Regions from separate parts of the Homo sapiens genome. Here region 1 is linked to region 2. The links come from fine-mapping of genetic effects on gene expression. A gene starts in region 2. The other region holds a variant in brackets. All regions are shown on one strand. Distances are between the middles of the regions.

Evidence for each region. PIP is the estimated chance that this variant, and not a neighbour inherited with it, causes the effect.
Region 1: its variant is the best candidate, but not a certain one, in a credible set for the expression of LINC01140 in nasal epithelium (TOPMed, PIP 0.82).

Annotation. Positions count from the first base shown.
Region 1 is chr1:87,220,253-87,223,045 of GRCh38, reverse strand. It overlaps LINC02801 (long intergenic non-protein coding RNA 2801), which reads right to left. Exons shown (of 4, transcript NR_167752.1): 2 at 2,702-2,793. Among named protein-coding and RNA genes, the nearest start is that of LINC02801, 9.0 kb to the right of the region's middle. The variant A/G (reference allele first, on the strand shown) is at 1,319.
Region 2 is chr1:87,128,584-87,131,376 of GRCh38, reverse strand. LINC01140 (long intergenic non-protein coding RNA 1140) reads right to left here and starts at 1,612. Exons shown (of 3, transcript NR_026989.1): 1 at 1,383-1,612.

The DNA.
Region 1 (2,793 bases), 92 kb before region 2:
AGTACTGATACATGTAAAAGATTGGATGAATCTTAAAAACATTATGTTAAGTAAAAGAAGCCAGTCACAAAAACCACATACTGTATGGTTTCTTTTACATGAAATGTCTAGCATAGACAAATCCAGAGAAACTGAAATAAGTGGTTGCTGGGAGGGATAGGGGAAAGGAGGAATGGAGAGTGACTATTAATGGGTATGAGTTTCTTATGGGGGTGATGAAAATATTCTGGAATTAGATAGTGGCAATTGTTGCATGACTCTAAATATACTAAAAAATCACTGACTGAAATCACTTTAAAAGGGTGAAATGTTATATAGTATGTAAATTATATCTTGAAGAAGCTGTTATGAACAACAAAACCCCCAAATCCTAATAAGGTAGGTTTCATTTTCCCTGTTTGGTAGACAACGAACTGAGATTCAAAGTGGGTAAGAAACTTTCTTAAGGTCAAAGAGCAAGGCAATAGGAGCTACTATTGAAACCTACATGCATCTCATTTCCACATCTACGCCCTTCATTAAACTGCTTCCAAAGCTCTGATAACAACAACAACAACAACAAAAAATCCTTCTCAAAACAAGAAAGAGGTTCCAGCCACATTTGGTTTAGATCTGAGGTCACTTAATTCAAGCCTCATTTTCTCAAGTCCTTTACCGCCAGCTTGATCCTAGGCCCCGGGCAGATGGGTGTGTGGTGAGACACATGGGAAGCCTATGAAAGGTCATAAACTTATGTCAGTCTGGCCACTGACCCAGACTGTGGCCTACTGGCTCTGATGGAGAAGTCTATCCCAAAAATCAATAGTAATGGCAGTGGCTCAATTCAATTGCTCACGAATCCCCATCCATCATTAGGACAGCAGAATGGCAATGCTGGCCTTGCTAGGACCTAGTCTTTCACATTTACAGGCTTCATGCAAGTAGATGGCCCTTTCACCCTTAATGATTCCCTATGTCAGAGCACTGACACGTCTCCTAAAGCAATACTCAATATTTACTCCTATTATTATACATTGTATTTACTATGACCTGTATATCATAATTATCCACTGACCTGTCTTCTTCTACTCCCTCTTCAGTGAGATTCTTAAAGAAAGGACTGTGTTTCATTCATTTAAAAATTTTCCACACCATAGAAACTTCCCATCACGTATTAACAAAAGTTCTAGTACCATTTCCTATGTGTATACTGTATACTTGCTGAGTGTCAGGCTCTAGCCTAAAGTTTTATGACAGTGATCATATTTGATTCTCCCAACAACTCTATGAGGTAGAGACTATCACAATCCTGATTTTACAGCTAGTAAATGGCAGCCCA[A/G]TAAATCTCCTTAAACTTCTGTGAACCGTATTCTTGGTCAGTATAAACGCTATTCTTTCTGGGTCACTCCATAAAGACATGGGATATGTTTTCATTGATTCAGATCTTGCTGTATATGTACACCCTTAGCAAACATAGATGCTGGGCAGGGTGGTACCGACTGGGACATGACAGGCAGACAGCCCTGTCTTGGATCTGATCATAAACATCACGCCAGGGGTCAGCTGCCTAAATTCCAATCTTTCCATTCAGAAGGCAAGTTTATACAATTGCATACTTGAGAATTACCTCCATTAGAATTTGTTACTACACTAACGCAAAGTGAGAAATGGTATTGTGTTTTTAAAGTCCGAGTAATTTTGTTGAATGCCTTTATTCCCATTTTGGAGAGAGATTGGAATGTTTTCCCACCATGTGGGGCTATTTTACTGACTAAGGGCTGTGGCACCCACAGTCTGATGGTTTGTAACAATTTTCTGGGGTTTAGGAAATCACCTTCAGTGACTAAGTCAAGCCATTAAAAAATGGGACTATTCCTCTATTCACAACTGGCTGAAGAATTTCAGGTGTTTTACTCACATCCCAAGCATTCATAATGTCAGTGTTTAAAACCAGCTTTTCCAGTCAAAACCCTCAGCCAGGACTTGAAAGGGGATCTCAAGTTCTCTCTTTGTGATGTCAGCCATTGCAGGATTCTCACACCTTTATCAACTCTCCACAGCACTCCTAAAGGCCCTTTTTAATGGGCCTTCTGCTTCAACTTCACACTCAGGGACAGAATTTAAGACATGGGTTCTCACTAGGTGTACCTGTGAACACTGAATAAGGCATGAAATATCCCTGTGGCCACCTTCTGCTGTCTTGGCCTAAAACTCCATCTTAGCTCATCGTTTGTGCCACGTGCAACGAGGTCACCCACACTTTGCTGTTGTTGCCTGTTCTCCCTTTACCTTACCACCGGAAAGTGGGGTTTTCTTGTTGTGGTGATGGTTTTTTTGGCAGGGGGGATCAGTTTTTGTGTCAGTTTTGGCTTGGGACATGTATTTGTTTTGCTTTCTTTCATATGGTAGAGGGAGGGCTATGAAATGGAGCTTCTGCTTTCTTTACTGATTCTCTCTTTTCTTGGACCCTGTCTCTCTTCCACTGTCTGGTGCTCCATCTTTCCTAACCAGCATCCTCATACTACCAGCTGGTTCTCTTACGCCTACACACACTGGCCAGGTAGACATGTGGGGAGAAGAAGCAAGAGAATATTTGAGCCAGTCAAGACCAGAGCAGGCTGGTAGTTAGTTTGGAGAAGCTGTAGCTGTTGAGGGTAACACAGATGCCAGCCAGAGGCTCCCCAGCTCTTTGTGGGTATGAAGAAAATTGACCAGAACTTACCTCCCACCCATTCTGTGGCCTTTGGAAACCCAAAGCTCTCCTCCAGATTGCTGCCACTTCCAAGGGACCTCTTCTCAAGGTTTTCAGCTCCA
Region 2 (2,793 bases):
AGTTGTCTGTTTGACCTCGACCAGAGGGAAACAGTTTTACTACCTCTCACAATACTGTGCAGTCTGGATTGGTATCTCCATGTAATCAATAAGGAAATAGGGGCTCCAGGAGTTTACCCAAGGCCGGGCAGCAGATCAGTGGCCAGACCAAGCTTCAGCTGCACGTCTGCCCGACTCTGAAGAGCACGTTGCCTTCACAAGCCATCAAATCCCTTCGTGCTTTGGCCTCTTCATCTACCGCTTGAAGGGTCTGTACCAAGTGGTCATGGTTCCTTCCAGATACAGCAAACCGTGATTCTAAGGTTTCACTGATCCCTTAAAATCCAGTTTTAGTGCTCACAAACCCCATGGTGATAACAAAAGAGCCTTTAAAAAGGATTTATCCACCTATAAAAACCATTAGATTTTATTTGGGGCTGTGGGCAAAGAACACCAAAGCAAACGTGTTGGAACATCAAACCTCCTTTAAAATTTAGGGCAGCAGGGACAGAGGAGAAAATCTGCACAGGGCAAGGAGGGACAACTTACAGATTCCATGGCTGGAACCAGACTGCGGGACACTATTTATCTGCCATTGGCTTCCTGGGGGATAATTGCCTCCTGACAATTGTTTAGACTTGATAAATACATGAAATGGGACCGCCAACAGTTTATCTGGCTACCAGTTCAGATCCGGACAGAACCAGATGAAGAAGTCAGGCATATTTGCAATAACCTCAAAGATAAAACCTTCCTATCAGAGGCAGCTTATCTCCTCCTCTGGGTCATGCTGCCTAGTAACTGCCACCTCCAAAAGAAGGAAGGGGAGAGCACTTCTAGCAGGGGGTTCACAGTGGGCCTTGCTTGCCTTGAACTCCCCTTCCTGCCCACACGACAGGCCACCTGTCTGGCAGCAAGGGAGTGGTACTGTGCCCTGATCTGGAAGGCTTAGGAAAGATGTTGGCAAGGAAAGTGGAAGTAATGAGCAACTAGATCCCAAAGCCAAGGTCACCTAACTCTGAGATGAATGCGTTCCTTGTGGGCTCTTCCTCTGTTTCACATGGACAAGCTAAAGGAACTTCAGGCCTCCCCAGCAAAGATAACACCATGAATCGCAGCTCACAGGAGCTGGGACCCTGCTGGGCTACATACTCACCCCATGACCAAAGGCAAGTGGGACCTCTGGGCCTCAGTTTCCTCACCTCTCAGGGGTTTGAGCTAAATAATCCCTAAGATCCTACTGAGCCATTTTATGGACTGGAATCAAACCAGCCAGACCTCTTTATGGTTTAAAAGAGGCCAGAGGTTTCATCGAAGAACCATCTCCCTCCCTTACATTTTTCCTCAGCCCGCTTGCTTTTCTCTTCTCCCTCCCCGACACCTCTCATTTGCCGGCCACAAACCTCCATCCTCCAACTCCTTTCCAACGTCAGTAGCTGGCTCCACCAGGCTGGCTAAGGAGCGAGGAGACCATCACCTCAGAAAGCAGCCCCGCTGGGAGGTCCACGGAGCAGTTCGCCGAGCTGTGCACAGGCCCTTTATTTTCCATCTGTCAAGAAAGGAAGCTGCCTGTTGCTTATTTCCTCCTCCCACTCTTCTCCCTTCCCGCCAGCAGACTCTTCCACTTTCAAAATATTCTGATGGGGGATCACAGGAGTTTTCCTCAAACAAGATCACTTGGGGTCAACTACTGAGCAACTCCCAGCCTCAGCCCCACCCATTCCCTCACCCTCCAGCTTGAGCAATAGCTCCAGTTAGTAAAGCAGTTGGATCAACAGGACAACAACCAAAAGTGACCTTCTACGTCCTAAAGCCCTTGCCTGACACCACCTCTTTTTTTTTTTAAATTATTCAGGGGCCTTTTGGGGACCCCCAGTTGAGCTGTATTCTGCAGAAAGAACTTCCAAACGAAAGGAATAAGGCATTGTTTTACCAAGAGCCTTTTCTCCCTCAAGAAACACAATGTAAACTAGGAAACTTGCACTTTCTTTTACCTTTGGGTAGATGAGCAGAAGGGAAGAGTTACTACCCAGGGTGAGGTCATTCCTCCATGGTGGTAGAATATCTGGTTCTTTCAGTTTCCCCATGGTGCTGGCCTCACAATAGGTGTTCATGAGGTGCAGGCTAATTGGGTGAGTGGATGCAGTGCTCTGATGGATTTATTCAGTGTACAAGATTGCAAAGCCATGTGCCAGCAAAGGCTTAACCACCCCACCCTACCCTTCAGACCAGCCCCATAGCTTTCCATGTCCCTGTCTGCCCAGCCTCAGGCCAAAGCAAAGGCAGGGATCTGAGCTGTACCCACTGTGAATGCCCATCTCCTGACCCCTGTGCTAGTGTCTTGTCCCTGCATGCCTCGGCTGTCTTCTCTCTGGACTATGATTCATGGCAGATATTAAAAAGGAAACAGCATCCTTCAATTCTTTCTACCATTTCTCTTATCTTTAAAGGGTTCTTATTAAGCAGTATCTTCAAACTTATTTATGTGATGTCATGCTAGGAAGCAGCGTTGTCAATGTGCCACTTTCCATGAGCACTGAATTCAGTAAAAATAAAAGCCAAATAAATGATATATTGTCTCCATGCAGAATCTTCTCTAGTCATGACTAGCTATCCAGATAGTAGGGAATCCCTAAAGATAATCAGATAATGGTGACTTTTGCTTACTGAGGCAAGCTCCCCTTTCCTCTGCGCTTCTGGAGTGATTGATCCAGAGAGGCCAGCTTCTTGCTGGGGCACAGCTGCAATCCGCTGTAAGAAGCCAGCCCAGAAGCGGGGACACAAAATCATGGGGAGCCGACCATGGCCAAAGCA